Linked DNA regions of Homo sapiens. The protein of the gene in region 1 interacts with the protein of each later gene in a biochemical or structural test. Each region holds a gene or a part of one and is shown on either strand. Other genes may lie near its edges.

Evidence for each region. Proteins that work in one complex are often made in the same cells at the same time.
Region 2: the proteins of NFKB1 (region 1) and LYL1 form a complex in vitro, tested with the Homo sapiens proteins (one study listed by BioGRID).

What each region holds. Positions count from the first base shown.
Region 1 is NC_000004.12:102,595,334-102,600,021, forward strand, and holds part of NFKB1 (nuclear factor NF-kappa-B p105 subunit), read left to right. Parts: intron 1-804; coding exon 805-999; intron 1,000-2,186; coding exon 2,187-2,328; exon of another isoform or gene 2,329-4,402; intron 4,403-4,688.
Region 2 is NC_000019.10:13,100,059-13,104,039, reverse strand, and holds the start of LYL1 (protein lyl-1), read left to right. Parts: upstream 1-1,181; 5' UTR 1,182-1,509; intron 1,510-2,844; 5' UTR 2,845-2,868; coding exon 2,869-3,203; intron 3,204-3,291; coding exon 3,292-3,383; intron 3,384-3,981.

The DNA.
Region 1 (4,688 bases):
GAGTTTTATAGGATCGGTCTTTTCCCATCAAGTCATCCCCTGAGAAGCTGCAGTTAAACCACATGTTGATAGTTTATATTACAGGTCCATTCTAGTGTACCCATGGAAGAAATAATACTATAAAGAAGTCTTCCCATTTATTGAATACCTATTTTTGTGCCAAGTGCTTTTACATGTTTTAACTGTTATCTTCATGACTGCTCTATATGGAAAATAGTAACTCCATTTTGCACACAAAAGGCATCAAAGTTCAGAAATGTTCGTACTCACTGAAGGCACACAGAAGTTAGTGGCAGAACAAGAATTTGAAGCAGGTCTCCTGCAGAAAAGCTAGATGCTCTCATAGTATCTGTCAGATAACATAGTTGAACCTGAAAGAGGGTGATCAGGAATGGTACACTGGATAACTCCCACACTAAAGAATGTGAGTCGACAACACGTCTTTATGATTTGCTTTGTTCATTAGCATTAGGAAAAAACTGCTCTGTTTTCAAGAACTTTAAAAATTCAGCTTTCCTGCAATTCATAGAAGAGCTTTATTTCATTTTTCTCCTTTACAAATAAGCAAAATGAGATTTAAGATTTTAGAAGTATACTAAAAATGATTTTTAGAAATGAGTTTAGAATATCTCCAAAACATGGTATTTATGATATGACCATTTTTAAAAGAATTTTAAATTATTATTTTTCTTTTCCTTTTGCAGCAAACTTGTCTCTTACCTTTATCTGACCTACATTGGAATAGCGAATTATCACTAAATACATTTTACTGAGAAAAATCTGATGTTTTTGCATTTATCTTAGGAACCATGGACACTGAATCTAAAAAGGACCCTGAAGGTTGTGACAAAAGTGATGACAAAAACACTGTAAACCTCTTTGGGAAAGTTATTGAAACCACAGAGCAAGATCAGGAGCCCAGCGAGGCCACCGTTGGGAATGGTGAGGTCACTCTAACGTATGCAACAGGAACAAAAGAAGAGAGTGCTGGAGTTCAGGGTAAGTGAGCACACAAATTACGTTCTGTTGGTTGGCTGGGGAGGGGTCAGTCCTAGGTGCAGAAAGATATCTGCTAATCTAAAGATGATATATCAATATCTAGTTTAGTGTACTCTTCAAAGTTCTGTATGCCTTTGGAAAAGCATATGTCAGATCATTTTATTCACACTGGGATTTCCATTTTTGCTCTGTTATCTTTGAATGTAAAGGACAGAAATTTATATGTACATTCTCCAGTCATAATCATGCAGTTTTAGGGTATTGTGAGAGATAATCAACTTCTTTTCTGGCACAGATAAATAGAGAAGTATTTCCACAAGCTTAATAGTCACCCTGTCTAGATTCTGGCTTAACCGTCATACTGAAATAGAACTTTGCCTTAAAATAGGAACTTTTCTTTTTATCTTGTGCCCTCTTTGAAGAAGTAGGATTAGGAGAAAATGTACTTTTGCGTTTACTGTGAACCAATACTTATTAGCATATGTGTCATGATTCTAGGTCATCCTAGATCGTACTAAGAAGACGTCTATAAAAGCAAAGGTAGTAAATATTTAGAGTTGGTGGCCACATGTGGTGTCTATCACATATGCTTTTTTTTTACACCCCTTTAAAAATGTATAAGCCATGATTAGCTAGGGAGCTATATGAAAAGCAGGCCATAAACAGGTTTTGGCCCAAAGGTCACAAATGCCATTCCCTGACCTTAATGGAACAAACTTTACAAAAACGTGAGTGGCTCATTGAACGTCTCTGTTTATGGCAGAGATGTGTGTTTTTTCACACATTGCCTAACAAGCTAATTGTTAGAGATTCCAATGAAGGATTATTTCACCAAGATATTGGTGATTTAAAATCATGGTAAAATCTAACATTGTTTGGAGATTGTTTTCCTTAAAATAACAGATAATGGTCGTTCCCTTAAAATAATACATTTCTAAACTTTTTTCCTCTAACAAATCATACACAGATTCTTTAAGATCAATCTCTAACTATATTTGTCAGTGACCCAGTGTCCAATTCTGCTTTTTCTAGTCCACACAATCCAAAAGCATTGAAAGAACATTTTCAACTAAAATGATATGTCAAGGTGTCAGAACACTGATGCTGGTCAGTTTGTCCTTAAGCATGCCATACCCATAAAACAAAAGTAGGAACACTCAACTATGATTGTGGTCATTGCCTTACAGATAACCTCTTTCTAGAGAAGGCTATGCAGCTTGCAAAGAGGCATGCCAATGCCCTTTTCGACTACGCGGTGACAGGAGACGTGAAGATGCTGCTGGCCGTCCAGCGCCATCTCACTGCTGTGCAGGATGAGAATGGGGACAGGTAAGTCAGAACTTTTGCATGATAGGTTGTCCTGGGTGGGGAAGAAGAAGAGCATCGTATAATGCATACTGACTAGAGATAAAAATAATTGTTCAAATATATTGAGTCCTCTAACTGGAATGATGAAGAAAAATAATGTGTGAATAAGGTTAAGTAGCACAATTTGCTGCTCCATCCTGCTGCTGTCATCTGTTGGAATCTGTAGTAGCTGGAGGACTCATCTAAGAGTGAATCTCTCTGGGCAAGAAAACTAAGATGTGTGTAGGTAATGGTACTTTTTGAAAAGCCTTGCTTTGTTTATTGAAGTAATATTTGGAGAATTGTTAAGAGTCCTACCAAATCCCTGAAGCATTGTTATCCCAGCTGCATATTTATGACAGTGTACTCAAGAAAAAGCCCAATAAAGGCAGCAACAACAACAGAAAGATTAAGAGGGACTGGTCATTATTTCCCAGTTACTGGTTTCTTCTCTGCTCCCTCTTCTGATGGTCATCAGTCTATGACTGTTTCAGACTTTTGTGACTGCTCCAGCCCATATGTGGGAGTGGAACATTCCAAACACCATGCCTTCCATTCTTGCTATTACTGAGATTGTATTTGCAAAGCCACCTGGCTTCTTTCTAAAACAGTTCTCTTAGTCCTTTCATTGAGACTTCTAAAATGATCTCAAAAGCCTATAAAAATAACAAGAGACAGCAGCCTTCACATTCAAGTCAAGTGCCTTATCTAAAACCTTCCTAAAATAGCATCAACATAGAGAAATCCTTTTCTGTGGAAGAGCTCTTGAGTGCTGTGTTTTAGACTTCAGTTTAAAAATTAAACCAAGCACTTTAGGAAAGTAACAACCTCAGGGTTTCAAGCAGAGACACCTTTGTTCTCATTCCTTGCAACGTAACCAAGGATGTGGTATAACCACTGGCCTTGTTATACAGTATGAGAGGAACCAGTACAACCTTCTTGGTATAAAGCCATGAACAGCAGAATTCTTTTTCAGGGTTAAATAATCCAGTTAGCATTCAGTAGCATACAACCACAAGAAAAAGCAGTTAACCAAGACAGTACAGCAGTGTTTCAAGTGGCATTTCCAGGGACCTGTTAAATTGATAAGTCTAAGAAGATGAGCACATACAGGTTAGAAAGGAAGTGCTGATATCTGAAGGGAGGATTGTTGGAAGGGATACAAGGCGAGGCACATGCAAGTTCCCTCCTAAGACCCAAGCACACTCACACAAGCCGGCTCTCAGAGAGGCCACAGATTTGGGACTTGGAGAGACCAGAGGATCCTCATAAGAGCATAGGTATAGGGCAGCTTTTGGCCATCACAGCCCAAGTCTCTTGTTTTAATTCAGCTCGTCATATTTGGCTAATAGTTTAAATCCTGTGGCCATTAGTCATCATAGAAAATATAATAAAGAAAAATATATAAAACTTCTGCTATTGGGGAAATTCCCATAAGGGTGTGAGGATTTGAGGGGGAGGGGGAATGTACTTCTGCTATGAAATGCTGAGCGGCACATGGAAATTTTCGAGCAGTTTTAGAAGTATGACCTTTTTCTTGGTGTATGTGCATCATGTCTATGTCAGAGTTTAGGCCCTTTTCAGAAGTCTTCTTCCAGTATCACATTTCAAGAAGCAATAGTGAAACCCTGAGATCATCCGTTTTAAAATATTTCTCAAGTAGCAAAATCACAATTTAGTTTTTTAGGCTCTTCTGTGCCGGAGTTAATCCCAAGTACGATATACTTGCTATTGCTAAGGAAGAGGCTTGAGTAAAGTGGCACCTGATAGCTTATTTTAGAGAAGATCCAGCCTGTACCTCGTGTCCCAGATGTAGTGCTGCTGCGAGATGCTTTAGTGTGCTCTGCACCTCAATCTGTCCATGCTCTGGAGTGGTCATCTTCTTAGACATTCATCTGAATGTCTTTAGAACAGTGCACATGTATCCCCTATGCAGGATTGCTTAAGGGATTAAGAGATGGCTTTGGAGTAAGACAGGCCTGGGCTTGAATCCCAGCTTCACCACGTATTGGCCTTGACTGAGTTATATGACGCCTGCAAGTCTCAGTTTCATTAGCTGAAAAGTGAAGATAATATTACCTAACTCATAGGATTATTGTTATAGTAAAAAGACAATATATATCAAATGCTTAGCATAGTCTGGTAAATCAAAGCTCCCAACAAATAGTAGCCACTGGTAAAATGATTGTTATTGTTATTGTTTTGAATTTTAATAGTATGTTTTTTAATAATTAAAAGAATTACGCTCCTGTGAGTGACTTTGACACCACCAGTATGTTCAGCCTCATTAGCGTAAGCTCTTAAGTTCCTTCTATCATTCTTATTTTTGTGCCTCTACTGCA
Region 2 (3,981 bases), on another chromosome or scaffold:
TTTTTTGTAGAGATGGGGTTTTGCCATGTTTCCCAGGCTGGTCTCAAACTCATGAGCCCAAGCAATCCGCCAGCCTCAGCCTCCCAAAGTGCTGGGATGACAGGCATGAGCCACCAAGCCCGGCCTTTACTGCATAAAACTTTAGTTCCTGCTTCTTTGGAGGAAAGCAATGGAGGTGTTGATCGTGGGGTCCTGGGCTCCACCCCATTCCTGGGCGGGGGGGGGGGGGGGTTGGTAGTCCTGCTGCTGGGTGCCTGCCTGCCTGGGGGCTCTTGCAGTTGCCCAGATACACAGACGGGCCAAAGCATGAGTATCACAAGTGGGTGGCAGTCTGGTAGCTGCTGCTGCCTGGCTGTGCCCAGAGCCTCTCCCTGTGGGAGGCTCCAGTAGGGTCTTGAGGTTTACCACCAAGCCAGGATAACTGCCCCCCATGAAGGGGCCGGGTGCTGTGGGGTGAGGGCCATGGACCACCAAGTTGGAGTTATGTGATCCTGTAGCCAAGAGGCCTATAGTTGTGGGGACCTGTTGGGCATCTACTGGAAGGTCACACCAGCCCCAGCACCCTAGGAAATCCAACTTCCCCACCCCACCCCTGACAGCCATGGCTCTTCCTCTCACCCTCCTGGGCTTGGAAATGTGTGGATACTGTGCTGAGGGCTTGGGACACCTGCCCAGGCTGGACACCCAAGGCCAGACTGTTAGAACTGTTCCCCTTTGGGTGCCCCACTCCCGGGTAGGGGTGGTGGAGAGGAGGGAAGGGCCTCTGTAAAAAGAGGAACCAGGCTGGGTGAGGAGAGGAGGTGGGGGCCCAGGGTCACGCGGCCCCAACGGGCCGGAAAGGGCTCTCCCTCACCCCCATCAGCACAGACATTCGGGCAGGGAGTGTGCAAAGCCAAAGGGCAGACTCGGACATAAGAGGAGGCAGCTTCCCTGCCTCAGTTTACCCCCTGCGTGCATCCAGGCACCTCCCTCCCCGGCTGCCCTGGGGCCCGGGTCCCCAGAGGCCCGGGGTCCCTACAGTGGCTGGGGGAGCGGAAGGCGAAGCCCTGAGGGGTGGCGGACCGAGTCCTGCCAGCGCCGGCTGGGGGCGGGGCCGGGAGGCCCGCGCTGCTAGGTCCCCGCCCGCTGGTTTCCTCCGGGGTCAGCCAGGCTCCTTATCAGGCGCGGCCAGGCAGCCTGGCCCTTATCTGCACTGGGCCAGCATCCTCCGGCCGCTGCGCCGCCAGGGGTGAGAGGGAGGAAACCGGGCCGCCGGGGGCGGGGAGAAGGCGGGCCGGCCCGGGAGCCGCTCACTTTCCCTGGGGGGGACCTACGCGGAGACCTCGGCTATCCTGGCCTTCCGAGGCCCACGAGGAGGCGCGGCCCAACGCCGGGGCCTGGAGCATTGAGGCCGGACCCTCGCGAGACAGCAGAGCCTGGCCTGACGCTGGAAACCACACCCTGGCCCAGACTGCCAGCCCTGACGGGACAGAGCCAGGGCACTCACCAGGCTGCAAGAACAGTGCTGGGGTAAGAGGGGAGCGGGCCTAAAGGTGGAGGATCCCGGGCCTGGGACCCAGCCTGCATTCCTTTGTTCATTCCTTCATTCATTCATTCACCAGCAGGGACCCACTAGTGAGGGGCCAGGCCTGCTTCCCCAGGGCCTAGCTGAGGAAGACAGGGCAGAGGGGCCAACAGTCTCACACCTTGCTGGGACATCCTGGACTCTGGAACCAAGAGCAAACAGGGATGTCAAAACAGTATGCAAAACTGTGGATGATCGCGGGGCATTGTGGTGCATGCCTGTAATCCCAGCACTTTGGGAGGCTGAGGCAGGAGGATCACTTGAGCCCAGGAGTTCCAGACCACCCTGGACAACAGAGTGAGAACCTGCCTCTACAAAAAAAATTTTTTTTTTTAAATTAGCCGGGCATGGTGGCACATGCCTGTACTCTCAGCTACTCAGGAGGCTGAGACAGGAGGATGGCTCGAGCCCAGGAATTTGAGGCTGCAGTGCACTATGATTGCACCACTGCACTCCAGCCTGGACAACAGAGGGAGACCCTGTCTCTAAAAAAATAAACAAATTTTAAAAAGCGTGGATGCTGATGAGGATGGGGGCTTCCAAGCCAGAGGGAGGGTTGGGGCATGACTGGACTGGACTGGGCAGTGGGGTCAGTGTTTGGGGGTCTAGGGTCAGCATTTGAGGTCATAGTGTCAGTAGTGGGGTCACAGGGTTGCTATGGGGGATGTTTGCAGTGGGAGTGGGGGTCACTCAAGCAATTATGGAGCACTTTCAGGGACAGCAATGGGAAGAACCGCAGGGTCATTCTTGAGGTGCAGAGGGTCAGCCTGGGTGGGGGCTGGGGGCCTTCCGTGAAGGGTCAGAGTCCATCTTGGAGGGATTCCAAGCTCACATGGCATCAATGAGTTAATGAGGAGTCTCTGGGTTGGATCTTTAGATCTGAGGATAACAGGGTTAATCTTGGGGTTTCTGGGGATCCCAGGATCAGTTAGGGGCTCCCTGTCTTGTTCCCTCTCCAGGCTGCAGAGGTGAGGGAATTCTGGAAGAAGGAATATTTGCTCAGAGGCTGGGCAACAGCGCCCCTCCTGGGTCACAAAGAGCTCAGGGACAGTGCGCTGCCTAGCACCTGGGGGGCGCCTCCTACTCTAACGTAGGACCCCCCTCCCGTGTCCTGGAAGTTTCTGGGCCTGCCCCCGCCATCTGCCTTTGCCTACTGAAACTTCTCTCCTCCTCCTTTCCCCCTCCCCCTCCCTCCTTCCCATTTGAGGGGTTTCTTGAGCTAAGCAGGTGGGAGCGGGGCACCTAGTCCTCCTCCCCACTGGCTGCCTTCTTTCCCACAGGTGAGTACCCCCACGTCGGGGTCCATGTGCCCGCCTCAGGCACAGGCAGAGGTGGGCCCCACCATGACTGAGAAGGCAGAGATGGTGTGTGCCCCCAGCCCAGCGCCTGCCCCACCCCCTAAGCCTGCCTCGCCTGGGCCCCCGCAGGTGGAGGAGGTGGGCCACCGAGGAGGCTCCTCGCCCCCCAGGCTGCCACCTGGTGTACCAGTGATCAGCCTGGGCCACAGCAGGCCCCCAGGGGTAGCCATGCCCACCACAGAGCTGGGCACTCTGCGGCCCCCGCTGCTGCAACTCTCCACCCTGGGAACTGCCCCGCCCACTTTGGCCCTGCACTACCACCCTCACCCCTTCCTCAACAGGTCAGTGGGGATCTGGGGTGGGGGGCAGTGGGGATTGGGGGCCAGGGTCCTTGCCCACAAGGCATTAGTGACCCACGACCCCTTACAGTGTCTACATTGGGCCAGCAGGACCTTTTAGCATCTTCCCTAGCAGCCGGTTGAAGCGGAGACCAAGCCACTGTGAGCTGGACCTGGCTGAGGGTGAGTGTGGGTTTGTGTGCCTTGTGGGTTTGTATGCCTGTATGTGCACTTGTGGGTGCACAGAAGGCCTGGCCGTCTCTGTGTGGGGCTCATGTCTGTCCTCTACTCCACCTCGGGGAGACGTGCTTCCAGCACACACAGAGAACAGCCCACATAGGTTCTACCCATGTGCAAAATCGCAGTCCCATAGCCAGCCCCACACAACCACCGCCACCCAACAGGCCAAGCCATGTAGCCGCAGTCACGGCAAAACAGAGCATGCCACACCAGGGCATGGGAGCCACAAAATGACAGCTCCACTGGAATGTGCAGCCACGCAAGACAGCCACAAGACCACAGCCATGCAAGAGACAGCCACAGGACCACAACCACACACAAGACAGCCACAGGACCACAGCCACTTAGGACCACGGCCACACAAGAGTCAGCCACACAACCACAGCCACTCGTGAAACAGCCACATGGCAACATCACACATAACCACAGCCATGAGACATAACAAGAGTCTCACACAGTCATACAAGACACAGGACACAGACAGTCATAATGAGAGGACCTCTCAGACCCATGAGTACACCCAGCCAGCCGTACTTGGGCA